3 linked regions of the Homo sapiens genome follow. The protein of the gene in region 2 interacts with the protein of the main gene of each other region in a pairwise test. Each region holds a gene or a part of one and is shown on either strand. Other genes may lie near its edges.

What was found.
Region 1: the proteins of SLMAP (region 2) and STK3 interact in binary tests that used the Homo sapiens proteins (3 or more experiments, as listed by UniProt).
Region 3: the proteins of SLMAP (region 2) and STK4 interact in binary tests that used the Homo sapiens proteins (3 or more experiments, as listed by UniProt).

What each region holds. Positions count from the first base shown.
Region 1 is NC_000008.11:98,702,519-98,712,903, forward strand, and holds part of STK3 (serine/threonine-protein kinase 3), read right to left. Parts: intron 4,794-10,385; coding exon 4,629-4,793; intron 4,117-4,628; coding exon 3,949-4,116; intron 1-3,948. UniProt on the Homo sapiens protein: Stress-activated, pro-apoptotic kinase which, following caspase-cleavage, enters the nucleus and induces chromatin condensation followed by internucleosomal DNA fragmentation.
Region 2 is NC_000003.12:57,758,093-57,768,477, reverse strand, and holds part of SLMAP (sarcolemmal membrane-associated protein), read right to left. Parts: intron 1-10,385. UniProt on the Homo sapiens protein: Associates with the striatin-interacting phosphatase and kinase (STRIPAK) core complex, forming the extended (SIKE1:SLMAP)STRIPAK complex.
Region 3 is NC_000020.11:44,967,930-44,978,314, forward strand, and holds part of STK4 (serine/threonine-protein kinase 4), read left to right. Parts: exon of another isoform or gene 1-2,676; intron 2,677-4,148; coding exon 4,149-4,229; exon of another isoform or gene 4,230-4,991; intron 4,992-5,353; exon of another isoform or gene 5,354-5,504; intron 5,505-6,170; exon of another isoform or gene 6,171-7,404; coding exon of another isoform or gene 7,405-7,481; exon of another isoform or gene 7,482-7,483; coding exon of another isoform or gene 7,484-7,512; exon of another isoform or gene 7,513-7,755; intron 7,756-10,385. UniProt on the Homo sapiens protein: Stress-activated, pro-apoptotic kinase which, following caspase-cleavage, enters the nucleus and induces chromatin condensation followed by internucleosomal DNA fragmentation.

The sequences.
Region 1 (10,385 bases), on a different chromosome or scaffold from region 2:
AAGCTCAAGGCATCTCTTTTTGCCCCTAATTTTTGCTGGCCTAAGCAATACTACTTTACAAACAGGCCTGGTACCTAAACACGGTAAAAGGCTGAGAAAATGACTGGGAAACCAAATCCCAGTTCACTCAGTCTACAAGGCAGCACCACTGTTCTGGAGTGTTCCTAATTATATACAGCTAGTGGGCAGGCATAGTGGAAAGGGCTAGAACTCTGTGAGGATGAATGCAAGGCATTTCAGAAAGACTGGCTAGAATCCTCACTCCAATTAGGCAATACCACCAGTGGCTGGGCACCCCACTATAGATGGAGGCTGGGGAAACTCACCCACCACATCCTAACTTTGTCTCTAACTTTGTTCTAGATAGCCATGTATATGTAGTAAATTGTATCATTTACTTATATTAAAATAACTATCAGGTTTTTTGCCTGTTATCAGCTGTGGGGTCTTCATGTCAATCACATCTTTGTCTCATTGTGGCAACTTTGTAGATTATTGATTACCTCATTAGCCTATATGTCTACCAAAACATGGCTGGAAAACAAAACTTTAAAAATTGAAATCTTACCTAGGTTACCATATTTCCTGCTACTCTGGAAAACTTAGAGGGTTCAGATTTTAAATCAGTAATTATAATATTGTGATTACATGGTTTTAAAATGTCTTATTTTTGTTAGCCGCTCCTCCACTTGCACTGAGTTGGGATATTAACACAGAGGATATTTCTTTGGTGTCTAGGCAAAAACACAGAACAAACTGAGTTCATATCTCAGTTCTGCCACTGACAAGTTATGTCATCTTAAATAACATAATCTTATCCATTTCATCCAATCCACCCAATGGAGGATAAAATATTTATTTCACAAAATTACTACAGTACAAAAAAAAATGTTGGTAAAAAACTTCAATATTTCACTCACTTACCATAGTGTCATATCCTACCAGCTTTCTCATATCTTAACTACCACTTTATCTCCTCTCTAACCTCCTGAGATTCTGATTTAATCTGTTTAGGGTAGGGCTCCCCACATGACGGCTATGCAGCAAGCATGGAGAACACTACCTATTCTTTGATCACCCCATTTCCTTACACTCTCTCTTTTCTTTCCAGACTGTGCCCTGTTAGTAACCCCTTGAACTGTCTCTCAGCAGCATCCTTAAATTCCCTATAGCCCCATCCTTCTAAGACACTCATTCATTAAAACCCAAACCCTCCATATCAAGGCCATAATGCATTCTACTGCACAGCAGAGCACACTACCATAGGAAGGCCCACAAACCAGGATTAATTACACTATACTTTCCCAATTACCAATTTTAGCTGGGCCCTCAACAATTTTTCTCTCTTGGACAGCTCTTTCTTTCATTGCCCTCACTATACCCCCCACAAAACTACTGTAAACCTTGATGAAACAGTAAAGTTTATTAATTCTATTAAATTTCTACACTTGAATATGTATTTTTAATATTCTACATTGACAAAATGGAAAATATGCATAAAGCACTTCCCCACATATCAAAGAACAACAATAATCTGAAAAAAAGCAGTTGTGTGACTGAGCTGCAAGCTAAATAAACTACAAGGCTCTTTTCAAAGAACATCATTTTTACTTGAAGAATAACTAACAGAAAACTAAGGTTACACAGACTTGGGTATTTGACAGACATTTTCTCAAAAAGGAACCAAGTGAACCTGTCATTTCAAGGAAAACAAAAGGCAGTACTTGTTACCAGTGATAAAACTATCTGTTACATGATCTCAACAGCTTCCAATACTTGCAGTTCAATACTCTACTTTGTAAGACAGCTCACAAACACAAGAAAAGTTAAATAATGATATTATTTAAATAGGAAATAAACTATATTATGTTTGGAAATGCACGAGGCAACACTTGATTAACTGTCCAAAGAACTGGACTGTGAAGAAATTGCCTATATACAAAATATGAGGAAAAAGAGAAATTTACTTGGGCGATAGCTGTCAAGAATGGCTCTACACAGGCATAAAATCCAAGTTGGGACTTGAAAAACTGGTAGGATTTAGATTTAAAAAAAAAAAAACAGTGAGCAAGGCATCCTAGGAAGTTTGCAATACAGGTATATTTTTTTCTAAAAGAAATATTATTTTCAGGTATATTTTTAATAATGTATAATGTATTCATTCAAACTCTCAGGTAATATTAGAAGATCCTTAAAGGAAGAGGCCACATATTACAATTCTCTGCTATCTGAGCACAGGATCAAATTTAACATGTTGAACTATTTGGTTGGAAAAATAAGATTTACACAGGGAAGAAGCAGAATAGTAATAATGGAAGTCCTAAGTTAAATCCCAGCTCTTGTACTTACCTAGGTTGCCTTGGGTAATTTAGTAAACCTCACTGATTCAAACTCAAATACACCTACTTTGAGGATCACCCTACAAACATCCTAACTAAAAGAACCACAGATAACTAATGATCAGAGATGAAATAAGACTTTGTGTTCCTGTTTTTATGCTGACCTTGTTGTTTTTCAAGTTATTTTCAAACAATTGATGCATTTTTATCTTTCATTTACCAAAAGGAATTTATATACACCAGGAAGATGATACATATTGTATACAATTACATTACTCAAAGAACTCTAGGCTGGGCACACTGCTGTAATCCCAGCACTTTGGGAAGCTGAGGTGGGCGGATCGCTTGAGCCCAGAAGTTGGAGACCAGCCTGGGCAACATGGCGACACCTTGTCTCTACAAAAAATTAGTTGGGCATGGTGGTGCATACCTATAGTCCCAGCTACTCTGCAGGCTGAGGTGGGAGGATCACCTGAGCCCAGGAGGTCGAGGCTCGAGTGAGCCATGATCGCACTACTACAATCCAGGCTGGGTGACAGAGTGAGACCTTATCTCAAAAGAAAAAAAAAAAAAACTCTCTTTAAAATGTTTCAATACAGCAGACAGATTTTTAAATATTTTCTGTATAATACACTGTTACCTATATTATCGAAATTTAACCCACAATGGCATTATAATATCAGATGTAATTCCAATTTATTCTTCTTCAGATATTCTAAAATATCTGAATTTTTATGCATTCTTCCTCTTTCTATCTATTTACTTCACATTCCTCCAGCCACCATGATATTATCTTCTCTTTTCTACAAATACACACATACATACACTCCTCCCCTCATTCCTACATCCTTATTGAGATAACTACAGCCACTAGAGGGCAATAAGTATACAAAGATCAGTGTACCTATTTATGATGATGAACTTATCTATATGATTCACATAGTAATAAACCTAAAAAGTATATCATCACAAACCCTGAAACACAGGCAATTAGACTTGAATATGCAAAATATATATTTCAAACTCAAAAATTATCCTGCAGAGTTCACAGAAGCATATAATGATGTTCAAAAAAGGAATTCCATTTTCTCAGCATGCATTCATTAAAAAAAATTAGCCGAATTCCTTTATATGTGCATAGTAATATTAGAAATTAGGATTGCTTAATACCATCCTCAGACCAAAGAAGAGAAAAGGCAGAAAAAAAAAAACACACAGTAAGGTATAAATCACAGAGTGGGTAAAAAAGTGAGAAATGATTACTTCCAACTCTTTCACTACCACAATCAAGAAAACAATAAACTGAAGAGCAAAGAGGATTTACCAACCCTTTCTTCTATTGAAAAGCAAGCAAAAATTTTACAAGTATATTTTTGGGGGAGGAGAACAGTGATGGTAGAGATATACAAAGCCTTCAGTTCTTTTCTCACAATTAAGAATGCAGAAGGAAGAGAAGTTAACAGTTACTAATCTTTAAGAGGTAATTTTACCATTTTTAAAAAGAATACATTTAAATGAACTTATTTAGTTTATATTTACTTACATTGACATTACAAAACGGCAACACTTATATAAGGCTAACATTTTCAGCAAACCATAATTTTCTTACCCTCATTGGATGTATATCAGCATAAGGAGGTTTTCCTTCAGCCATTTCTATAGAAGTAATGCCAAGGGACCAGATGTCGGCCACACAGTTATAGCCTATTTCTTGAATCACCTCAGGAGCCATCCAAAATGGAGTTCCTATTACAGTATTGCGTTTTGCCATTGTATCCTGCAATAATGTTACATAGCCATAAATGCTACTACAAAAGCACAAAGGAAATCTGTATGCCAAACATACTTTTAAAAAATGTTAAAACCTCCAATGCCACAGATTATATCAGAAATTGACTATTTTGCTAAAATTTCAACTAGTTATGACATACTTAGGAATTCCGAATTCTGAAAATAACCAAGAGTCCACAGGTAACTTATCCACACTACCATCATTAAACACAGTCATTAAAGATAGTGCTACAATGATAAAAGCTACAGAAATGAGCTACGTAGCTTCCCTTTTAGAACATTTAAGCATTTTGATTATAAGATATATTTTCACATTCAATCACCCTAAATTATAAATTAAATAATACTCAAATTTGGCTCAATTATGGTTCCTTCTCCACAAAAATTAAAAAACTACACATTTCTTTCCATTCCCCCTCAAAAAGTAATTGAAGTTTAGTTATAATCAAATCTGAACAAATTAGCCAAGTGTTTAGAAAACCATTAAAGTTAACTTACTGTTAACTGACCAGCCACTCCAAAATCTGCCAATTTTGCATGTCCTTCTGTATTGAGGAGAATATTTCCAGCTTTTATATCTCTGTGTATTTTTCTCATAAAGTGCAAATATTCTAGTCCTTTCAATGTAGATTTAAGAATGGTTGCAATTTCATCTTCTATTAACTGGAAAGAAATATTTTTAAAACCATAATTAAAATGCCACGTTAGATAAAATCTTACGAAAGAGCACTAGTAACAAGTATGTCTTTCCGTGTGTGTGTGTGTGTTTTTTTTTAAGAGACCCCACTCTGTTGCCCAGGCTACAGTGCAGTGGTGTGATGATAGCTCACTGCAGCCTAAAATTCCTGGGCTCAAGGCATGCTCCCACCTCAGCTTCCCGAGTAGCTAGAACTACAGGCACATGCCAACCCAATAGGCTAACTTATTTTTATTTTTGTAGAGATGGGGATCTCGCTATGTTGCCCGGGCTGGTCTTGAACTCTTTGCTTCAAACAATTCTCCTTCCTCAGCTTCCCAAAGTGTTGGGATTATAGGTGTGAGCCACCATGCCTAGCCACAAGTACTTCTTTCTAATGACCGCTAAACCTCCAGGAAAATGCTAAAGGGGTAAATAATCGAGAACCTCTTCTTCCCACAATAAGCTTTCTTATTACACATTTTACTAATGAAAGGATGATCAAATTTCTCTCTTTAAGATTATCAGTATCAGCAGGGCGTGGTGGCTCACACCTGTAATCCCAGCACTTTGGGAGGCTGAGGCGAGCAGATCACTTGAGGTCAGGAGTTCAAAACCAGCCTGGCCCACATGGTGAAACCTCGTCTCTACTAAAAATACAAAAATTAGCCAGGCGTGATGGCGTGCACTTGTAATCCCAGCTACTCAGGAGGCTGAGGCAGGAGAGTCACTTGAACCTGGGAGGCAGAGGTTGCAGTGAGCTGAGATCACATCACTGCATGCCAGCCTGGGCGACACAGCGAGACTCCATCTCAAAAAAAAAAAAAAATTATCAGTATCATTCCTAAAGCAAACAACATATCTCAAGAATCAGCCTGATATAAGGAATCATAATAGTGATTTCCCACATCTTCTAATACTGGGAGGGCACTATCACAGCTAATATCTGTTCTGAAAAAGTAAATTCAGATACTTCCCCTGAGATATTTCAGATTCTTGATGAAAATGAAACCAACAGCTTTACATAAAGGAAAGTAAATGAGGGAGGGAGGCTTGCAATGAATCTTCTGCGAGAAGCTCCTACACCAATGCCACTCCTAACCCTTCCAAGTTCTGGACTTCTGACCTAATATTGAGAACTCAGAAGAAAAAACGTCAGAGAAAGATTAGGAAAATGGAAACACAAGCAAAGACTATCAGAGGAGGGAAAAAGGGGAGAGTAGAGAAGGCCGAGGAAGAGACGGATGGGAAAGAAAGAAAATCTTCTTAACAGTTGTAGCAGTAGAGCCACTGCTATCTGTACCAGGCAATGTGCTAAGAGTTATGCATGCATTCTCTCATTTATTCTTAAAACAACCTTGTAAGGTAGTGTGATATTATGAAATCACAGGAAATATTTGGTCTTTGTAGGTTCTTGGCACAAAATCTCCTAAGACCCTGTGAATTGACTGAGTGAGTGAGAAGTTGAATCAAGATATTTTATCTTTGTTTTCTCACCCTCTCACAAGAGTGAGAGGGGCTGTCTTTTGTCATTCATAATAAGCTCCTTTCAACCATACCAGAATTTATACTGATCAGGTGACTCTTGGTGGGAGCCTAGATAGCTTCAGGATGGGAGCTGGTTGCCGAAAAAACCAACCAAGTGATTAGATGTTTGGAAATTTCTGCCTGACCCCTGACTTACGGGAGGGCTGCAAGGAGAGAGGGGGTAGAGATTTAGTTAAGCACAAATGTCCAAAGACTTAATCAATCATGCCTATGTAACAGAATCAACCATAAAAATTCTAAATGATTAGGGACTGCTCTCAAGCTTATATTCTATCTATAAGCAACGGGATAATTTGATAGAAAATAGGATAACACAGGAAAATGTCTGTGAAAATTGCTATGAGGACAACAATAGAGAGCTACTGATAGAGAACGACTGAGAAGCTACTTTAGATTGACATTCAAGAAGGCCCAAAAGACATTTTACTGAAGTCTAAATGATATAATGGGGCCAACCATGTGAATGGCTATCTGGGAACATACACTCCACAAAAAGGAAAAAAAAAGATTAAAATATCTTGATTCAACTTCTCAAATTTTCTAAAACACTGAAGAAAAGAGAACACTTCCACACTCATTTTAAGAGGCATTATTCTGATATCAAAGCCAGACAAAGTTACCACAAAACAACTAAGACCAATATCCCTTATGAACATTGATACAAAAATCCTCAACAAAATATAGCACACTCACTTCAACAGGATTGTAACAGGTTATACACTATGACCAACTGGAATGTATTCCTGGAATGCAAGGTTGATTCAACATACAAAATCGAACAATGCAATACACCACCTTAACAGAATGGAGAAGAAACCACATGATCATTTCAAATGAAAACAGAAAAAGCATTTGATTAAATTTAACTTCTTTTCATAAAACACACAACTAATATGAATAGAAGGAAACTATCTCACCATAGTAAAAGCCATATACAAAAAACCCAAAGTAAATGTCATACTCAAAGCAGTAAGACTGAAAGCTTTTCCACAAAGATCAGGAACAATGAAAGGATGCTATTAGGTTGGTGCAAAAGTAATCGCAGTTTTTGCCATTTTTTTTTTAAAGTAATGGCAAAAACCGAAATTACTTTTGCACCAGCCTAATACTTCTGTTACATATAGTACTGGAGGTTCTAGACAGAGCAATTAGGGAAGAAAAACAAATAAAGGCATCCAAACTGGAAAAAAAGAAGTAAAATTATCTCTGTTCACAGATGATATGATCATATATGTAGAAAATTCTAAAGATTCCACAAAAAAAACCTATTAGAACTAATAAATAGGGATGGAGACAAGACGGCTGAATAGGAACAGCTCCAGTCTAAAGCTCCCAGCGTGAGCATTGCAGAAGACACATGATTTCTGCATTTCCAACTGAGGTACCAGATTCATCTCACTGGGGAGTATCGGAAAGTGGGTGCAAGACAGTGGGTACAGTGCACTGAGCATGAGCTGAAGCAGGGCGGGGCATCACCTCACCTGGGAAGTGCAAGGGGTCAGGGAATTCCCTTTCCTAGTCAAAGAAAGGGGTGACAGATGGCACCTGGAAAATCAGGTCACTCCCACCCTAATACTGTGCTTTTCCAATGGTCTTAGCAAACGGCACACCAGGAGATTATATCCCGCGCCTGGCTTGGAGGGTCCTACACCCATGGAGCCTCGCTCACTGCTAGCACAACAGTGTGAGATCAAACTGCAATGCGGCAGCGAGGCTGGGGGAGGGGCGCCTGCCATTGCCCAGGCTTGAGTAGGTAAACAAAGCAGCCAGGAAGCTCAAACTGGGTGCAGCCCACCACAGCTCAAGGAGGCTGGCCTACCTCTGTAGACTCCACCTCTGGGGGCAGGGCATAGCCAAACAAGGCAGCAGAAACGTCTGCAGACTTAAATGTCCCTGTCTGACATCTTTGAAGAGAGTAGTGGTTCTCCCAGCACACAGCTGGAGATCTGAGAACAGACAGACTGCCTCCTCAAGTGGGTCACTGACCCCCAAGTAGCCTAACTGGGAGGCAGCCCCAAGTAGGGGCAGACTGACACCTCACACAGCCCGGTACTCCTCTGAGACAAAACTTCCAGAGGAACGATCAGGCAGCAACATTTGCTGTTCACCAATATCCACTGTTCTGCAGCCTCCATTGCTCATACCCAGGCAAACAGAGTCTGGAGTGGACCTCCAGCAAACTCCAACAGACCTGCAGCTGAGGGTCCTGACAGAAGGAAAACTAACAAACAGAAAGGACATCCACACCAAAACCCCATCTGTACATCACCATCATCAAAGACCAAAGGTAGATAAAACCACAAAGATGCAGAAAAAACAGAGCAGAAAAACTGGAAACTCTAAAAATAAGAGTGCCTCTCCTCCTCCAAAGGAACACAGCTCCTCACCAGCAATGGAACAAAGCTAGACAGAGAGTGACTTTGACAAGCTGAGAGAAGAAGGCTTCTGATGATCGAACTACTCCGAGCTAAAGGAGAAGTACGAACCCAGGCAAAGAAGTTAAAAACCTTGAAAAAAAAATTAGACAAATGGCTAACTAGAATAACCAATGCAGAGAAGTCCTTAAAGGACCTGATGGAGCTGAAAACCAAGGCACGAGAACTACGTGACAAATGCACAAGCCTCAGTAGCCGATTCAATCAACTGGAAGAAAGGGTATCAGTGATGGAAGATCAAATGAATGAAATGAAGTGAGAAGAGAAGTTTAGAGAAAAAAGAATAAAAAGAAATGAACAAAGCCTCCAAGAAATATGGGACTAGGTGAAAAGACCAAATCTATGTCTGATTGGTGTACCTGAAAGTGATGGGGAGAATGAAACCAAGTTGGAAAACACTCCGCAGGATATCATCCAGGAGAACTTCCTCAACCTACCAAGGCAGGCTACCATTGAAATTCAGGAAATACAGAGAACGCCACAAAGATACTCCTCAAGAAGAGCAACTCCAAGACACATAATTGTCAGATTCACCAAAGTTGAAATGAAGGAAAAAATGTTAACAGTAGCCAGAGAGAAAGGTCGGGTTACCCACAAAGGGAAGCCCATCAGACTGACAGCTGATCTCTCGGCAGAAACTCTACAAGCCAGAAGACAGGGGGGCCAATAGTCAAGATTCTTAAAGAAAAGAATTTTCAACCCAGAATTTCATATCCAGCCAAACTAAGCTTCATAAGTGAAGGAGAAATAAAATACTTTACAGACAAGCAAAGGCTGAGAGATTTTGTCACCACCAGGCCTGCCCTAAAAGAGCTCTTGAAGGAAGCAATAAACATGGAAAGGAACAACCAGTACCAGCCACTGCAAAAACATGCCAAATTGTAAGACCATGAATGCTAGGAAGAAACTGTATCAACTAACGAGCAAAATAACCAGCTAACATCATAATGACAGGATCAAATTCACACATAACAATATTAACCTTAAACGTAAATGGACTAAATGCTCCAATTAAAAGACACAGACTGGCAAAATTGGATACAGAGTCAAGACCCATCAGTGTGCTGTATTCAGGAAACCCATCTCACGAGCAGAGACACACATAGGCTCAAAATAAAAGGATGGAGGAAGATCTACCAAGCAAATGGAAAACAAAAAAAGGCAGGGGTTGCAATCCTAGTCTCTGATAAAACAGACGTTAAACCAACAAAGATCAAAAGAGACAAAGAAGGCCATTACATAATGGTAAAGGGATCAATTCAACAAGAAGAGCTAACTATCCTAAATATATATGCACCCAATACAGGAGCACCCAGATTCATAAAGCAAGTCCTGACTGACCTACAAAGAGACTTAGACTCCCACACAATAATAATGGGAGACTTTAACACCCCACTGTCAACATTAGACAGATCAACAAGACAGAAAGTTAACAAGGATATCCAGGAATTGAACTCAGCTGTGCACCAAGCGGACCTAATAGACATCTACAGAACTCTCCACCCCAAATCAACAGAATATACATTCTTTTCAGCACCACACCACACCTATTACAAAATTGACCACATAGTTGGAAGTAAAGCACTCCTCAGCAAA
Region 2 (10,385 bases):
CAAAGTGCTAGGATTACAGGTGTGAGCCACCACACCTGGCCTGCTTGACTTTTTATGAGAATGTATTCCTGTTATTTGTATAAGTAAAAAATAAGAAAAGCTTGAAAGTCTATATTGGAAAATCCTTTCTGCTTGGCTCAGCTAGAATAAGTCAGTACTTATATATAAATAAAACTGTAAGCCTGAAAATATTGAGAAAATCTTAACACACAGTTTCTATGTGCTTAAATTTAAAATCCAACCCAAATTGTATACTTGACAAAAGATACAGTACTAACCACCAAACACGTCCATATTTTCAAGTGCCTATATAAGCTTTCCTTCTTTTCTTTACATTTGTCAGCTACTCTCTTATAAAGCATGAAAAATGTACATGGCCAAACAAGTTTTTCCAAGGCTGTTTCATTCATTTTCATATATACCCAAAGCCAAATCAGTTTGCCTGAATGCAAGCCCAAGAAAAAATATTGTATTTCTAGGAGTAGTAGAGGTAAGTTTTTAAAAATGTTAGCTGACTCAGAGAAATAATTAACTTGAGTTATTTCAGTCTTTGAAAGTCCGTAATATGACAAGTTTCGGTTATACATCAAAAAGCAATAGCTTAGATTACCTTTCAAGAGAGCAAAAGACAGATTTTCATAATAATTGCTCAGTCCCTAAGAAGACAGTTCAGAATAAATGTCTAATAGTTGGCTTTCATTTTGGGGGGAAAAAAACTCCCATAGTTACCACTAGATGATCTTGTACAAATAACCTCTAAACATCAAACTCTTTTTGGACAAAAGCGAGCCAGACTGCAGCTGTTTTACTTACCTTCTAAGAGTGTTATATAGACCAAATGAAACAAGAAAGCACTCTGATTATTCTAAAACCTTTTAAAATTATTTTGTGTGAAATTGTAATAGTTCATATATATAATTTCATATCACCAATCACAAGATTTGGATCTACGATCCAAAAACACTTAGCAAAATGTTTTGCAAACTGCAAGCTCTCAATAAATAATGACTTATACAAAGACTACATATTGATAATTGAGTCCATGATCTCAAATTGAGAACTAACTTGAATGACTTTCTGCCCTTTAACACTGCACAGGTTTGCAGAAATACAAACCGCTCCATTGTTCACATTTCCCTCATTCAAACATGAATGTAGTGCCTATTCTCTTGCTCTCAAGAGTTCACATCTGATGGGACAGTAGTACATTTGCATCATAGTTATTTTGTTGTTTATGTCCCATAATGAAATTATATACAGGCCGGGTGCAGTGGCTCACACCTGTAATCCCAGCACTTTGGGAGGCTGAGGCAGGTGGATTGCTTGAGGCCAGGAGTTCGAGATCAGCCTGGGCAACATGGTGAAATCCCATCTCTACTAAAAATACAAAAATTAGCCAGGTGTGCTGGGGGGTGCCTGTCATCCCAGCTACTTGAGAGGCTGAGGCAGGAGAACTGCTTGAACCCATGAGGTGGAGGCTGCAGTAAGCCAAGATCACACCACTACACTCTAGCCTGGGTGACAGAGAGGGACCCTGTCTCAAAAATAAAAATAAAAATAAATTTAAAAAAAAGAAATAAAGAAATTATACACAAAGTTAAATGGAAGTATAGAGGAAGAAGCAATTAATTCTTCAGTTAAAGGGAGTCAGGGAAGGTTTCACATTGGAACTGAGCCTTAAGGGATGACAAGAAGAGGTCATTCTAGAAGACAAAACAGCAAAAAAAGGCACTTGTTCTAGAAACAGTGAACACTGTCATACAGCTAGTACACAAAGTTTGGGGTGAAGAAAAAACAGTAATAAAAGAGAGAGCTAGAAAAAAAGAAAATAAGATATAGATTTTAATGCTAAAAATTAATGAGGCAACGTCAAAGATTTTTAAGCAAAGGTGTAACTATTTATCTACCTATATAGTGTCAGTAAGAGAAGCATGTACCTGAGAAGAGGAAAGAGTCTGGACTGTAAACTTAGAACGTTTCAGCCGCTAATAAATGCCACCATTTTTCTTGATTCAAGTAACTATGAAGTAACTGACATATATTAAGAGTTAACTTCACAATCTTTTCACTTAAAACTCTAAATGACATTCTCTTCCCTACTTACCAAAAAGAATAAATACTAAGCTCTAGCAGAAATATCACTTAAGAAAACCAGACAGGTAGACTGGGTGTGGTGGCTCACGCCTGTAATCCCAGCACTTTGGGAGGCTGAGGCAGGCGGATCACGAGGTCAGGAAATCGAGACCATCCTGGCTAACACGGTGAAACCCTGTCTCTACTAAAAATACAAAAAAAAAAAAAAAAAAAAAAAATTAGCCGGGTGTGGTGGTAGGCGCCTGTAGTCCCAGCTACTCAGGAGGCTGAGACAGGAGAATGGCGTGAACCCGGGAGGCGGAGCTTACAATGAGCCGAGATCGCGCCACTGTATTCCAGCCTGGGCAACAGAGCAAGACTCCGTCTCAAAAAAAAAAAAAAAAGAAAGAAAATCAGACAGAAGCCTAAAAGGGCAAAGAGTGAATTTAACCTAAGGAGTAATGTCAAAGAACTAAGTGGGAAAAAAAATGCTTTAAGTATATACACTGTCGATATTTTTAACAATTTGAAATCACAGATAAAATATTTTATCAATTTCCCACTATTATGAAAAATAATATAGAGGGAAATGAACATGTGCTTTAAAGATATAATCTGGCTTCCTATACATGTTCACATTATGTGTCTTAAATACAACTTGTCAAGTAAAAGACTTTCTCACAAACACCAGCACCCCTTAATGATCTTTATACTTCTGTCAACAAAAAACTTAAGTATCTGTTAAAACAAACATACAAACAAATAAAAAGTAAAAGAATGTATGACCTGCCATTCTCCCAAAAGCTGAGGCTAGGATCTTTGTGGTCATGTTTAGATGTGTGGAGGAAAAAAGAAGAAACAATCTTGGTTGTCAAATTCAGCAGGCTCTTCACAATGTCTTCCTTACAATGTCCTTGGAACATGCCGTATCATCCCTGCTTCTTCCTCCCACCCAAAACTCCTTTCCCTGACTGACCCTAACTACAATCTATCCCTTAACCCCATATTTTTTTTTAAGATGGGTCTCACTATGTCACCCAGGCTAGAGCAATCATAGTGCACTATAGCCTTGAACTCCTGGCCTAAGTGATCCTCCTGTTTCATCCTCCCAAATAGGTGGGGCTACAGACCTGATGCACCCCTGGCAAATACAAGTTTTTGAACTTTTTGTTTTTTAGAGACAAATTATTGCTATGATGCAAAGGCTGCAGTGCAGTGGATTTTCACAGGTGCAATTTTGGCATACTACAGCCTCAAACTCCTGGCCTCAAGCAATCTTCCAGACTCAGCCTCCCAAGTAGCTGATATTACAGGCATTTGCCACTGTTCCTGGCCATTCTTCCTCTTTTTAAAAGTCCTAAGGTCTAGTTTAAATTGGATTTCATCCATGAAACTGTTTCATCCATTAAACTTTCCCTAAAGTCTTCAGTTCACACAGGACCTTGCGCTTTGCCGAAGTCCTAATGTGCAAGTTAATTTAATACTCTTATCTTTTTTCATTTTCTGGCATTTAATCATTTTCATTCCTACTGTTAACCTGGTCTATGCCCTCACAAAATCACATCATATCTAAAGTGTTATAAAGCCTTTAGAATAGCACAGTGGTTATGAGCTTGAGTTTAAATCTCAATTCTACCATTTAATAGCTAGGTGAACTTGACCAAGATCTCTCTGTGCCTCAATTTCCTCACAGGTCAATGCAGAAAAAACAAGCACCTCAAAGAGTTACTTGAAGATTAAATAAGTTAACAAGTAAAGCATTTAGAATAGGGCCCAGTATATAGTTAGTACAAAAGTGTTATTTAAGCTGTTACCCATTTTTCCTTGCTCCAGGCAACTCTACATACTGCTATTGTATCACTATTGTATCACTCTTTCTTTCTTTTCTTTTCTTTTTTTTTTTGAGATGCAGTCTCCCTCTGTTGCCCATGTTGGAGTGCAAAGATGGGATCTCTGCTCACTGCAACCTCCGCTTCCTGGGTTCAAGTGATTATCCTGCCTCAGCCTCACAAGTAGCTGGGATTTCAGGTTCATGCCACCACACTTGGTTAATTTTTGTATTTTTCGTAGAGGTGGGGTTTCACCATGTTGGCCAGGCTGGTCTCAAACTCCTGACCTCAGGTGATCCACCCATCTCGGCCTCCCAAAGTGCTGGGATTACAGGTGTGAGCCACCGCACCCGGCCCACTCTTTCTTAAACAGGGGTTTGGTATGTCAGTGCTCTGCTCAGAACTCTCGTAGGCCTTCCATAACCCAAGGGTCCACATCCTAAGCTTGGTAAGCAAGGCACTTCACAACCTGGCACCACACTATCTAGTCAGCTTCATTTATTCAACAACTACTTTATACAAGATAGTAGGAAAACGTTCCTGTCTTCCAGAGTGTGAAAATTAATTACAAAGACAAGGCACAAACAAGAACATCACACAGAATAGATGTGCACCCTTGGCTACTCTTCAAAGAACTCTCTAATCCAACAAAGTCAGTTTCCTCAGCATTTGGAAAATGCAAAGCTCATTCAAAATTATCTGCTTTTTATTCCATCCTCATCCCCACAAAAAAAATAAAAATAACCAAAAAAACACCTTTTCTTATCTATCCACCCCTAATTTTAAAGTCAAATGTCATTATTCTTTTGCCATTGAAACTTACATAATATCACCTATCTCAACTATTTTCAAAGTGCACTGTCACCCTCTCTATCCAATGTAAAAGTTCCTAGAAAGAAGAAATAACAAATCCTCATCAGTTTGTCATTTTCTCCCCCTTTACCACTATGCCCTTCACTAAAACAAATCATGATAGAACAGGTGCTCAAAAAGATGCACTAGGCCGGGCGCGGTGGCTCACACCTGTAATCCTAACTCTTTAGGAGGCCGGGGCGGGTGGATTGCCTAAGCTCAGGAGTTCGAGACCAGCTTGTGCAACATGGTGAAACCCCGTTTCTACTAAAATAAAAAACAGTAGCTGGGCGTGGTAGTGTGTGCCTATAATCCCAGCTACTCAGGAAGCTGAGACAAGAGAATTGCTTGAACCCAGGAGGCAGAGGTTGCAGTGAGCCGAGATCACACCATTGCACTCCAGCCTGAGTGACAGAGCGAGACTCCATCTCAAAAAAAAAAAAAAAGATGCACTAAGTTTAAATTAAACGTGAGACTAGAAGTAGACAACTACTACCACTAGTAAGTAAACTTCAGTGAAACTGGAAATAGACTACTATGTCAACCACTAGCATGTCACCGGTACCCCAAAGCCTCAAATCAAATAGGGCCATCCAAATCACAAGAGTTCACTCACTATCCTTTCTATGTAACCACTATATGGGTAGATCTGCTTGCTCAGTGGTGCCTTGAATCAACAGAGGAATTAATAACCATTCTAGGCTGGGCACCGTGGCTCACACTTGTAATCCTAGCACTTTGGGAGGCCGAGGCAGGCAGATCACCTGAGGTCAGGAGTTCATGACCAGCGTGGCCAAATGGTGAAACCCTGTCTCTACTAAAAATACAAAAAATTAGCCAGGCATCTGGGCATGGTGGCTCATGCCTGTAATCCCAGCTACTTGGGAAGCTGAGGCAGAAGAATCACTTGAACCCAGGAGGGAGAGGTTGCAGTGAGCCGAGATTGCGCCACTGCACTCCAGCCTGGGAGACAGGGCAAGACTCCGGCTCAAAAAAAAAAAAAAAAAAAAAAACCATTCTACTATCTGCCATCTAATTTGAAGAGCTTGACTTCCGAAAAGGATGAAGGATAATACACAGGGCCAGCATCCAACAAGGCAATATCCAACTGCTACATTACTGAGAAGATGATTTGGTAAAGATTATGAAACTCTGCTTTGTGCCAAACCTGTCACCCTTCAACATGCAGATTTAAGTATTATACAATAAGATATTCCATGAGCTTAGCATTAAAAAGTGTCACTTAGATTTCCACCTGCCTACATTTTGCAGATATTCTAAAATGAACATGTATCATTTGAATAATCATAAAGTTTCAAGTGTTTATTATTTCTTCCAACTTTTTTTTTTTTTTTGAGACAGAGTCTCACATTGTCACCCAGGCTGGAGTGCAGTGGCGCGATCTCAGCTCACTGCAACCTCCGCCTCCCGGGTTCAAGCAATTCTCCTGCCTCAGCCTTCCCGAGTAGCTGGGATTGCAGGCACATGCCACCATGCCCAGCTAATTTTTTGTATTTTTCGTAGAGACAGGGTTTCACCGTGTTAGCCAGGATGATCTCGATCTCCTAACCTCGTGATCCGTCTGCCTCAGCCTCCCCAAGTGCTGGATTACAGGCATGAGCCACCAAGCCTGGCCTATTTCTTCCAACTTTTTTTTTTTTTTTTTTTTTGAGACGGAGTCTCGCTCTGTCGCCCAGGCCGGACTGCGGACTGCAGTGGCGCAATCTCGGCTCACTGCAAGCTCCGCTTCCCGGGTTCACGCCATTCTCCTGCCTCAGCCTCCCGAGTAGCTGGGACTACAGGCGCCCGCCACCGCGCCCGGCTAATTTTTTGTATTTTTAGTAGAGACGGGGTTTCACCTTGTTAGCCAGGATGGTCTCGATCTCCTGACCTCATGATCCACCCGCCTCGGCCTCCCAAAGTGCTGGGATTACAGGCGTGAGCCACCGCGCCCGGCCTTCTTCCAACTTTTAATGAGCCTCCCATAATGGACAATGCAGAATGCAACAGTCACCACAAAGTGAAAGTCACCCAAAGCACATATTACCCCAATTGTCGACCGCCCAGGTAAACTGCCAATTTAGACAAAGTTATCAACTACATCAGTTTCAATTTTAAAAATTTCTTCTGGCCAAGCACAGTGGCTCATGCCTGTAATCCTAGCACTTTGGGAGGCCGAGGCAAGTGGATCACCTGAGGTCAGGAGTTTGAGACCAGCCTGGCCAACATGGTGAAACCCTGTCTCCACTAAAAATACAAAAATTAGCCAGGCATGGTGATGAATGCCTGTAATCTCAGCTACTTGAGAAGCTGAGGTAGGAGAATCTCTTGAATCCAGAAGGTATAGGTTGCAGTGAGCTGAGATCGCACCACTGCACTCCAGCCTGGGTGACAGAGCCAGACTCCGTCTCAAAAAAACAAAAAACAAAAACAAAAACAAAATTTATTCTATATATGCCATCACATTAAAGAAAATAATTTCTCATCACCTTCCTAAGACTCCATAGCACTATAGCAAATTGCACAGTGTTGTCTAAATAGTTCCCTCTTCCCCACTAAACACCCTCTCTGCTGAGTATTGGGTGCTTAGTAAGAGCCAGGGACAGGGTGCTAAGTGATTTATATAATTACCTCAATTCTCAAAACAATAATAGGTACCATTATCATCCCCAGATGTTTAAAAAAAAAAAAAAACCTGGCCGGGCGCGGTGGCTCATGCCTGTAATCCCAGCACTTTGGGAGGCTGAGGTGGGTGGATCACCTGAGGTTGGGAGTTCAAGACCAGCCTGACCAACATGGAGAAACCCTGTCTCTACTAAAAACTCAAAATTAGCCACGCGTGGTGGCGCATGCCTGTAGTCCCAGCTACTCGGGAAGCTGAGGCAGGAGAATCACTTGAACCCAGGAGGGAGAGGATGTGGTGAGCCAAGATCGCGCCATTGCACTCCAGCCTGGGCAACAAGAACGAAACTCCTTCTCTGAAGGGATTCTTTTTTTTTTTTTAAGAGACAGGGTCTTGCTTTGATACCCAGGCTGGAGTGCAGTGGCATAATCACAGCACTGCAACCTCAAACTCCTGGGCTCAAGCAACCCTCGTGCCTCAGCATCCCGAGTAGGTGGGACTACAGACACTGCAAATTTCATACGAGAACTATTTGGTCGCACTGTGGGTTTTCTTTGGAACTGTATCCCTCACAGTGTCTGGCACATAATAGATGCTCAATTAAAACCTACTATCTGTCCAAACCAAAACTTTAAATAGTTAATTCCTAAAACAATTCAATGACATGGTAAGATCTGACAGAGCATCCGCTATAACTAGATTAAGTGGTATAATAATCAATAATTACATCTATATCTAAAGTAGTGGTCTCATAGCCTGCGTGTTATTTTAGCTAATAAAGCAGGAGGAAAAAAGTGAAAATGGTAGAAATAAGCCATATCTACCATTCAAAGATAAGTTTTTCTGAAGAACTAATTTCATGGCCGGGTGTGGTGGCTTATGCCTGTAATTCCAGCACTTTGGGAGGCCGAGGAGGGTGGATCACTTGAGGTCAGGCGTTCAAGACCACCCTGGCCAACATGGTGAAACCCAGTATCTACGAAGAATATAAAAATTAGCTGGGCATGGTGGCATGCGCCTGTGATCCCAGCTACTCAGGAGGCTAAGACACAAGAATCGCTTGAACCCAGGAGGCAGACGTTGCAGTGAGCTGAGGTTGCGCCACTGCACTCTAGCCTGGCCACAGAGCGAGACTCCATCTCAAAGAAAAAAAACAAATATTAACATGTCATCTCAATTCATGAAACAGTCACTACTGACCTATTCTTAGTTATCTCAAAATAACCTATTGTGAGAGTTTTAGTACAGCCATGGAAAGCACTGGGCATGAAATCAGTATTTTTCAAATAAGTAAAACAAAAAATGGGAGTCCCCTTCGAGTGTTTCATCAAAGAAAGTGCATTCGCAGAGTATGTACTGTGAGCCAACCTGTTGTCTGATTAGTTTAGACCTGTTGCCCAAGAACATAAAATGGTGAAAATGTAAAAGCTGGTTGAGTTAAGGCACTACTTAGTAGTAAACTGATGTTTGAATTCAACTGCTGGAAAAATGAGTTCTATGAATATTCATTTTAAAGAATTATGAGGGCCAGGTGCAGTGGCTCACGCCTGTAATCCCAGCACTTTGGGAGGTTGAGGCAGGTGGATCAACTGAGGTCAGGAGTTCAAGACCGCCTGGCCAACATGGTGAAACCCTGTCTCTACTAAAAATACAAAATTAACCAGGCATGGTGGCGTGTGCCTGTAATACCAGCTACTTTGGAGGCTGAGGCAGGAGAATCACTTGAACCCGGGAGGCAGAGGTTGCAGTGATCTGAGATAGCGCCACTGCACTCCAGCCTGGGTGACAGGAGCAAAAATCTGTCTCAAAAAAAAAAAAAAAGGATTACGAGTAATCTATGAAGTATTTTAGGCACCCTAACTTCAGCTTGCGAGGAGCGAGTGAAGGGTCTGTTCCACAGGTAAATGAGGATCTGGTGTTAAACAGAAAAGTTAACATACTCTTCAGTTCTCATCCTACACGTAAAGTATAGATATTATGCAGCACACAGCACTTGGACAATCTTTTCCTCCTTTCTTTAAAAAATAATTTACAAAATAATTCCTTAAATCAGTAGCTGCCGAAGTATCATTTTTTTCTCTTCCTTTTGAGGCTCAGGTTTCTTTCATTTCAAAACATATTCTTGAAGACTTAAGTTCTTCCTTTAAGAAAGATTTAATTATTTAACTCAGAAAGAGGGGCAAAAAGTCAGGAGGTGAAACCTGAGACAGTCCTATTAGTCTTACATAACTTAAAGTTGGAACTGATTCAGTAGCTCAGCTAAAAACCTGAGGTTTAGGCACAAAGATGAGCTCTTTAGTATACTCTCCACAAACATAAATAAACAGTTTTTAAAAATGGAAAGGATCTTAATTTCTTTCTTCACTTCTTAAAATAAAAGCACATACATGTATAGTAACTTACGATACTAACATAAAAATACTAAATTGGTTACGCTTAAAATGAAAAGCACTGAATTCATCGTATCACATTTAAGTAATGCTATAATTGACAGAATAGGGTATAATTTCAGAAAGTAAGTTTATTTCCTAACACTAACTTTTGAATAGCACCTCTGTAAGTATGCATTAAGTACTTAATAAGTGCTGCAGGGAACATCAAAAAGTGATTTTCAAACGCAATATGTGTATGTTCTCCAACTTGTAAAAAAAACTCTGAAAATATATAAAGTTACAGTTGTTCATGCTTAATTAAATTAGCTTTGATTATTGCAAATTACTCCTCCAAGGGCAAGTATGTATCAAACCTTTCAAAAATCTTAGGTTTATATCAGCAATTATCCTTACTAGAAAGGTCCTGATCTGAACTCACCTAAAGCTATGTGTTAACTACATTTCACCACTAAGACACTTGAGCCCCGGGATAATAATGGCCACGGATTCCCCGAATTGCTTCGAGAACTGCTGCTTGCTTAATAAAGCGCTGAACTGTGAATTCACCTTTCTAAACAGACTAAAAGCAAGACGCCAAGTTTCACTATCTAGTTTGGGATTTCACTGGGAATGACC
Region 3 (10,385 bases), on a different chromosome or scaffold from region 2:
TGCTGATATTTGACCATTTTTGAACCATAAAAACCTCATTTGAACTCATTTGAACCTCACAACAATCCTGTGTGGTAGATATCCCTATATGTCTGTTTTACAGATGATAAAACTGAGATACAGAGGGTAGTGATTTGCTGGGAGAAGTCATAGCAAGTAAGAGACAGAGCTAGGATTTTAATGTCTATGGGGTCTGGTCCAAAGTCCATGTTCTTTTTTTTTTTTTGAGACGGAGTCTCACTCTGTCGCCCAGTCTGAAGTGCAGTGGCGCAATCTCGGCTCACTGCTACTTCCGCCTTCTGGGTTCAAGCGATTCTCCTGCCTCAGCCTCCTGTGTAACTGGGACCACAGGTGCGTGCCACCACGCCTGGCTAATTTTTTGTAGTTTTAGTAGAGACGGGGTTTCACCGTGTTAGCCAGGATGGTCTCTATCTCCTGACCTCGTGATCCGCCCACCTTGGCTTCTCAAAGTGGTGGGATTACAGGCGTGAGCCACCGGGCCCGGCCATGCTCTTAACTGCCTCACTCTGATGCCTCTCTAAAAGTACCCCTGTTTCACAGGTCTCTGTGTATGTTAGCAGATATTTACTATAGTACCATAGTGATCCAATTATGAATGCACACTAGTTATGTTTCTTTCTGAACTATGTTCGTTCGTTCTTCTTGGTTTCTTTCTCCGAGGCCTTGGTTTAATTGAAAAGAGGATTAGGAATCTGAGTTTTGTTTCCCCCTTTGCCTTGTCTTACATAATCTTGAGCAAAGGACTAAAGTTTCTTGGCATGCTCATTCCTGTACCTTTTGGATTTTAAAAAATGTATTAAAAGCACAAGAGAAGAGCATTGCAGGACTGGGTTCTGAAGTGGCTGGTGATTCCCAGCTCATTGTAACTAGTAGATTGCCTAATTTGAAGCAGATCAATTTTATTATCACGTGTATCAGTTTATCAGGACAAGACAAAGTGTCATGGAGTGGGTGGTTTAAGCAACGTAAATTTATTCTCTCACTGTTCTGAAGGCTAGAGATCTGAAATCAAGGCATTGTCAGAGTTGTTTCTTTTGACGCCTTTGCTTGACTCGTAGATGGCCATCTCCCTGTGTCTCCATGTTCTTCCTTCTGTACCTGTCAGTGTCCTAATCTCCTCTTATAAGGACACCAGTCATACTGGATTAGGGCATGCCCATATGACCTCATTTTATCTTAATTACCTCTTTAAAGGCCTTGTCTCCAAATACAGTCACATTCTTAGGTGGTGGGTATTAGGACTTCAGCATATGAATTGGGGTAAGCTGGGGACACAGTTTTATTATGTAAGATTTTGTCCATTTATCATGTATAGTTGTTGTAATCCATATCAAATTCTGTGTGGAAAAAGAAATAGTTACACATAAAATGAACTTTATGGGAGTTCTGAAATGGGAGAAAGCTTTGAGAATTAGCCAGACCTGTAAGTGACTACTTCATAGACACCATTACTTGTGTTTGGAAAGATACAGGTGTCTTTTCAGAAATTCAGATGGCATGTGTTTCCAATAACCCCAGTGCAGGAAATGCCCTTTGTGTTCGTGAGTTTGACATTTGTGTGTGTGTGTGATTAAGTGATGACAGATTGGTGTCTCATATAGGAGTTAATAATTTTAAAAAATGAGTTGCCATTAGATTAATGTTATAGTGGAAGGCGTAGAGTGCATTCCTGGGATGCTGGCCATCCACATGGCCATCTGACTTAGGAGAGGAGCATCCACCAGTATTTGGTCCATGGATGCTCTGTTGATCAGGCTTGTTCATTTATGAGCAAGTGCTGAAACCGTCTGGAACCTGGGGAAGTCCCAGATAAGAGAACTGTATTATCAGAGTCAGGCTGTTTTGGTAATAGTGTTTTTTCTGTGAAGAGTCATGGTATAAAATATTATTATGAATCACTTATCAAAATATTTTTATAGAAATGTTGATAATTCAGTAATACTTCTTAGGTGAAATTCTGTTTTATTGTGATAATTCAAAGATTGCTGATGAAATTCGTGATTCCCATCATTACATTTGTGAATCCATTTCACAAATATATTTTGACCACCTCTTGGTTATCAGGCACCAGAGATGTAATAGCGCCTTAAGTTCAAGTTGTTTTTAATAGCCCCGGATCAAAAACAAACAAAAAAGCACTTAGATTGTTTCAAAGATGTATTCGAGCCGTCATATGCTAAATGACGAGTTAATGGGTGCAGCACACCAGCATGGCACATGTATACATATGTAACTAACCTGCACATTGTGCACATGTACCCTAAAACTTAAAGTATAATAATAATTAAAAAAAAAGAAAAAAAAAGTTTGTCAAAGTATTATCAGAGGTTTGCAGCTGTCTATCTCAAGGCAGTGGCAATTTCCTTTGTTATGCTGTGGTCCCTGAAGTAGTTGAAATAGTGACTTTTGCATTTTGTAAACCACAGAGAGTCAACACTTCAAAGAAACATACTTGATCTTCCTTTGTATAAGCTGTTTATACAACTTTGATTATACTTGAGAAGTGAGGTATTGTCCAATGTTTATACAATTACAATTCAGGACTTTACCAAAAAAACCCTGGCATATGAGATGTTCGTTCTGACTTCTGAGTTTATAGAAGTTTCAGTTCTGAAGTTTAAGAGGAGTTTCACTTCATCCCTTTTCATTTTGAAGGTAGGAGTTTTTATGATGTCATTGGTATTTAATTTTTAGGACCTTTTGATTTTCAAAGGTCACTGTGATCATTTTGTTCTGTTGATATCAAGTTAAGGCAGTTTTGACTTGGAGCAGTTCTCCATTTCTCTAGTTTATAGTCCTTGATATTCATAAACTATAAGATTGTCCTTCTGAGATCAGTGTTTATTGGTAGATACACTTGATGTGGTCAGGGTTTTTGTTGGTTTGTTTTATTTTTTGTCTTCTAATTTTAATCTGTTTTATTTAGGAAGGTACACATTTGTGTGTGTGTGTGTGTGTGTGTATGTGTGTGTATTTAAGTCTTTTGTTGTAATAATTGATATTATCCAGCTAGTCTAAACCTTTTTTTTTCTACAAAGAGGTCTCCAGTGTGACTACTTCCATATTTCACCGTTTCCTCAGCTCTCTATTCTTTGTTGTTCTTTGTAGTTTCAGGAAGCCATTGTGTAGACTACACACACACACACACACACACACACACACACACACACACACATATTCCTTGGCAAGTTCCTTCTTTAAGCTCATTAGTAATTTTCAGAGATCTCAGAGTTTTAAAAAAATGTTAATTTATAACCTCCCATGTTTGTTATGATTGTCTAGCATAGTCAGAAATCTGAATTATCTGGAAATTGTGAGCAGCCAAGTACCTTTGATTTTTGGGACTAGTCAAAGGTATGTATCTACTCATAGGAAGGTCTTTGTGAGAATATCTGAAACTCACAGCTGCCTAGTGATTTTTCACTTTTGATCATATCTAAATGTACACTTTCCACTTTCTGTTTCTGTGATACCTACAGAATTTATGTGTTTTGACAAACTTACAAAAAACTTGCTAATGGAAGAGCAAAGGTTTCCCGTGTCTTCCTTAGTCTGCAGTCCAATTCATAGTTATGTTTCAATTCATAGTTACCTTACATTAAACACCTTTTCTGAAGAGATAATTACATCATTTTAATTCATGAAATCTCAAGATTTAAATAGATTTTGAAGGATACATCGAATGCTTGAATCTACAGCATTTCAGCCACATGACTTTTTTTTTTTTTTTTTTTTTTTTTGAGACAGTCTCTCTCTGTCACCCAAGCTTGAGCGTAGTGGCGCAATTTCGGTTCACTGCAAACTCTGCCTCCTGGGTTCACGCCATTCTTATGCTTCAGCGTCCTGAGTAGCTGGGATTACAGGCATGCGTTACCACGCCCAGCTAATTTTTTTGTATTTTTAGTGGAGACGGGGTTTCACCATGTTAGCCAGGATGGTCTCGATCTCCTGATCTCGTGATCTGCCTGTATCGGCCTCCCAAGAAACCTTGTTTCTTAAAACAGTCTTAACTAGTGAAGTCTGTATAGAGAAGTTCCTGAGATGCTAATTATAAAAAAAAGATATATTTTATGTTCTAGTTCCTAGCAAATAAAATGTATTTTGTGTTTATATTTCTTTATTCACAGGCAGCTGAAAAAGTTGGATGAAGATAGTTTAACCAAACAACCAGAAGAAGTATTTGATGTCTTAGAGAAACTTGGAGAAGGGTGAGTGTAAAGAAACTATAGGTAGGTCATTGGGTCCCAGTCTTTTTCCTGCCCCAGAAGAAGCAGAAGGATATGAACCTTTCAGCATTGTTCTAGGTGGGGTGGAAGGTAAATTTACAGCTTGTGATGTCCTTCTTCGCTTTACTCCAATCCCTATTATAGACAGATTTAGTGATTCCTGGTCTTTTTAACACGAAGAATATCTATTGTTTTCTCTTTTGTAGGATCTGTATGATTTTATCTACTTAACAGATAGCACTAATTAGATTAAAATTCTATAAGAAACTTTTTAATTTGCTGTTCATAATTTCTGATTGGTATGCAATAACTGTTTCAATGAAAATCAATGTAATTTAGTATTTTAATATTTGCACCTTTGTGAAATATAGTAAATAAATTAAGCACTATCACCACCTTCACAGCTACTTAGGAGATCCACAATCCTGGGTTGGGAGCCAGTGGATTTCCTGAAACACAGATTTGTTAATGCGTTTATAAAATACTGATGAAATGATATTAGTAATGTGCAGTGACCATCATTGACTTTCATGATACAATTAAGTTTACATAATTTTTATACTTTTATATATCATTTTAATTCAATCCTGTGTATTTATTCCTTCTTCTGTAATGACCAGGAAATTAAAATGTTAATGACACCATTTCTTAAGTTTTTCTTGTTAATTTTTGAATAGGCGATACAATCATATGATTCAAAATTTAAAAAAATATTAAGACGCATACAATAAAAAAAAAAAAAAACTGCCTCCTACCTCTCTCTGTCTCTTAGCCACCCAGAATCACCAAGGGTAGCGGCTTCTTGTGTGTCTTTCAGAGACAGGCTATGTGTGTGCGAGCGCACACTCGTGTTTGTGTGTGTGTGTGTCTGTATTTTTAATCCCTTGGGAGTATTTCTGGATCAAGGGAAGACCTGACATACTAACTTGTAAAAACAACTACTGACTGATGACTATATGCTCTTTAAAATAATTTCCTTTATGTCATTAGATTATTTTTTGGGTTTAGTATTTTTTATGTTAGGAGACAGATTTACAACGTTAAACCCAATCCTGGATTACATGAAATGGTTTTTTTATGATTTACCTCCTTGTAAAAAACATGAGTCATCGTCTTTTTGTAAGTTGGAAAAATACTCTTTGGAATCCAGCAAGAAATCAAGCAGAGAAGGGAAGTAAAAATGACACACCAGCTGTGCTGTGAAAAGACAAGTCCAAGATGAATCTGAAGACTGCCAGTTGACTGGCATCATTAAAGGTATGGGGAAATGACAGTCCCTCTACATCTGTTGCCTGCCATTTTCAGCTTTAGCTTGCCATCCTTGCTATTTTCCCTAAGGCAGCAAGGCTGTGACCTTTAATCTAACAATGCTCATAAGTTATACTTAGAATAAGTTCAAGACTGATAGGCATAATTGACTATGTAACTTATTTCTCTCATTTCTAATACAGTTTGCTCTTACTACTACAATGTGAGGCTGACCTGGGTTAAAATCCTTGCTCTACTGTTTACTGGTCATAATAGACAAGTGGGCTTAAGCAAATTGCTTACTATTTTGGAGGCTCACAATCCTCATCTGTAAAGTTGGGATAATAATATATCAATTCATAGAGTTGTGTTATTACCTGAGGTAATTGGGGTAAAGTATAGTGCTTATCACAATAATAAATGTTCAGTAAGTGGCAACTATTGCTATTCTATTTTAAATGTATCAACTGAAGCATTTTCAAGACCTCATCATGTCAAGTCTTAAAGTATTTTTAGGTGTTGTTATAGGTAGCTCTGAGCTGATTGGGTTTGTGGAATGTCAAAGGAAGACTATAGACAGAGAATATATCAGAAATATAATGTAAACAAAAAATAAGCTAATTATGATTTTTTAAATTGTATTTTATTTATTTGTTTGTTTATTTATTTTTGTAGAGACGAGGTCTCACTGTGTTGCCCAGGCTGGTCTTGAACTCTTGGCCTTAAGTGATCCTCCTGCCTCAGCCTCCCAAAGTGCTAGGATTAGAGACGTGAACCACTGCACCTGGACAAATTGCGTTTTAGATCTATGGATGTCTTCTGCAAGGAATGTGGAAATTTCCCTATGAAGATATCACCAGGGAGAAAACAAAGCTTCAGATCTTTCTTCCCATACTATCACCTTATTGTTCTTCTAAATAATACCAGATTTCTGGTATTTCTTGGATTTCTGTTATTCTGACTGAATGAACCTAAGCAAGCCTCATTTAACTAGGAATATTTTGAAGGAAGACCTTCACTGCACTTCTTTTCCAAACATGTGACACAATGCTATTCTTTTTTTTTGAGATTAAGTCTTGCTCTGTCACCAGGCTGGAGTGCAATGTCACAATCTCGGCTCACTGCAACCTCCGCCTCCCAGGTTCAAGCGATTCCCCTGCCTCAGCCTCCTGAGTAGCTGGGACTATAGGCACACACCACCACGCCCGACTTATTTTTTGTATTTTAGTAGAGATGGGGTTTCACCATATTGGCCAGGATGGTCTTGATCTCGTGATCTTGTGATCTGCCTGCCTCAGCCTCCCAAATTGCTGGAATTACAGATGTGAGCCACCACGCCTGGCCAATGCTATTCTTAAATTGTTCGGGAGGATGAATGGTTTGTGAACTCTCACTGACTTGTATCTTGTGAAATGAGCTATGGCTAAAAAAACTGTTGGATTCTGGAGGCTGCAATCATTCTGTGTTATGAGGATCATATGGATCTGTGGCAGAGTAGAGCCAAAGCTCCAGACCAGGATGAGTGGAGAGCACTTGGGAAGTGTTTTCAAGTGGAGCCTAGCACCTTTTTTCTTCTACTTAAAGTTGTACACATTGACTCATTTGAATTTTTATCATAGAATGATAACAAAAGCATCTTGCCCATGGTTTCATAAAAAATGAGTGCTATTGTTAAGACTTGTATCTGATTAATTTGGCCTCAGATACTGTGGTATTTCCATTTTTCTACATAGATCCTTGCCTTGCATGGCTTATGTAAAACACCTACTTCTCCATTCTCTGCTGTCAGTTGTAATTCATTGAATCATCTCATTTTGTTGTAGGGAATCAAGTTTTAAGGGACTTGCTTGTGAGTATGATTGCTGAAATCTTCTAACCACCCCCTATCCCTGCCTTCAGATTACTGTAGATGCAGTATATGGAATCAGGAATCTTAACTTCATGTGAGCTATTGGAGTTTTCCTTGCTATCAGGATGCATAGGGAGGTATGAAGAGTGTTCTGGTCAAGATTGCTGAGTGAGTGTATGAAGAGAACTTTCTAATATATAAGAATAATGAGTGAAAATTATTTTAAATATAAGGATATATAGACAGCTATGGACAAGGGATAGGAAAGAAATCTAAATAATCAGCGGAGACTAAAGCATGCCTTATCCTTGTCAGGAGATTGCATTTGAGCTTCCTGCATGAAGTTGGGGGCTGGAACTCGGCTCTCCATCTGTGAACTAAAGCTGAAATAAATTTGCCTGACCACAACCAGAAAGTGTCATTTGCCTGTGGCCTAGGGAAAAAATGGATATACTGGTTCGATAATAGGAACTGAGCTTGGATTGTATTTAAGTATGGTATCTTGAAGGGCAAAAACCCCAAACTCTGAATATAAGACCTGGTTTAAGTTGTATATCCCAGACTACTGTACTGAGAAAACCATGAAATCATCGACAGTGAGTGTGGTATAGAGGAAAATCATTCAAGAGAAAATGAAATCCATGCAAGGAAATCTACTGCCATGAGATAATCAGCAGAATGGGAGAATTCACACTGAAGGAAAAAGAAATAATGAAGCAATCTCAAAAACAATTTAATATAATTACAATTTTCAAAAAGATCAAGGAGGAGATAACATTTTTAAAAGGACATCAGATTATTGACATGATTATTAACATATTTGCCCAAAGGCAGATAAAAAGTTGGGAATCTTGACAATGAAAACTACAACAATTGAAGTTTTAAAAGCCCAATAAATTGGATAAACAGTAAACTAGACAAACTGAAAGGAGAATTTGTGAATTGAAAGATAGAAATGAGACTGATCACAACATGCAGAAATACAGTGTTGGAAACCAGGAAGACAACATAGATTGAGGAGGTCTAATACAGTTTTGGTAGGAATTCTAAAAGAAGATCCTAGAAGTGGTAGAGGAAATAATCACATAATAATCCTGAGAGTTTTTCATTCTTGAGGAAAGACACGAGCCCTCAGATTGAAGAAGTTTATGAAGTGCCAGATCAACTCCTAGTTACATTACAGTAGAATAGTAGACTGTTAAGGACAAAGGAAACCTTAAAAACTATGGGGAGATTACCCATGGAAAATGATAATCTGATAAAAGCTGACTTCTCAGCCACAGTCGATGTTGGAACACTGCAACAACAGTGCTGAGGGAAAGCTGTTGTCAATCCGGTATCCAACCAAACTATCATTCTAGAGTGGAGGTGAAATAAAGACAGTTTCAGACATACAGGAGCTAATTTATCAAGAATGCCTTTGGATGGAAGTAACAATACCCAACAAACAGTGGCTAACCAATAAAGACATTAAGAACTAAATAATACATCTGGGGGTGTGAGATTCGAGAAGCCGTTAATTGGCTTGACAATGGTTTGACATCTGGGTAATTCTCGTAGTCTCAAATGGCTGCATTAGTTTCAAGCATCATCCCTCACATGGCAGTAACCAAAGAAAGAAGGGAAGTGGCAGGTGGAAATGGGCCTTCTTGTGTGCTTGTCTCCTACCAGGGAAGAAAGTCTTTCCCAGAAACCTTTCAGCAGAATTATCTTCAAATTTCAGTGGCCAGAACTGGGCGACATGTTTGCCACTAGTTCAGTCACTGGCAGAAGGGAATAGGAATTCTGTGAGTGGCTTGGACTACCATGGTATATCTCCTGGGACGAAGCACATCACCACTGTAACAAATTAGGAAGTTATTTTAGCAAGGAAGAAGGGACACATGCTCAACAGTTGCCTCTCTCTGGCAAAAAGTATTTGGTGTAATATTTAAGGATGATTATGCTAGTTTTGCAAGTATGACAGCTTCTAATGGAATGGAAATATTTTTATGTGCTCTGCATAGACTTAAAAAGTTTTATGTTACTTTCACATTGAAACAGTTCATGAGCATCTATTTGGCAGTTAGAGTATTGTACTTTGACATAGTAGGTGGCACTGCTATTTTGATTTTTTTTTTCACCAAGACAGTGTGAAGATACAGATGTGTTGGGAAATATGAAAGACAGTTTACTCAGTATTATTTCACTGACAGCTGCCCAGGATTCCAATGAAAATGTTATCTGTATAAAGTGATGATGGTATCTCATTTGACCATCACAAATGAGATACCATCACATCTTGTAAGGTAGTTTGTATTATTGTCATTTTACAGATGAGAAAATTCAGGTACAACAAGGTTAATAAGGTGTAAATGATAGCTAAATGTAGTGTTGGTAGGACTCAAATCCAGCTTCTTTACTTTCAAAATCTAGTGGATCTGTAGCCTCCAAATTGACTAGATACACAAACTTTATTTTGATATTAAGCTGTTAAGGGAAGATGGAGTAGGAAGCAAAGAGTGTGTGTGCTGTGTTTACCTGATACTAATATTAAACAGGCTTAGATTTTAATTAGTTTCCATAATATTTTAAGTATTATTGTAAGTAAGAGGAGCAAGGACAGAAAGATCTTGTGGTACTAGAGTGAATACAATAAAACAAAGACTGCCACTTCCATATTGTACCCCAGTATAGATGGGGAGACAACGTAAGCTTTGTTTTCAGACACACCCGGGTTCAAATCCTGGACTGATAACACAACTGGTTTCAAATCCTGGACTGATAACTTATGTGACCTTGGGCAAATCATAAACCCCTTTGAACCTTTTTACATTTACCTGTAAAATAGGGATAGTCATCTCATCTTCATTTTTTGTAGGAATGAATTGAGATGGTGTACAGTCTCTAGCAGATAGCAGGCATGCAGTGCATGGCAGCTACTATATTACCATCTCATAAGAATACATTCATTACAGTTTTGAATGTGAAGCTTTCAAGATGCCATTTTGTTGTAGTTCTCTTGACAGTTTTTTCCCCAAAAGTATTTTAGCTATCTTAGT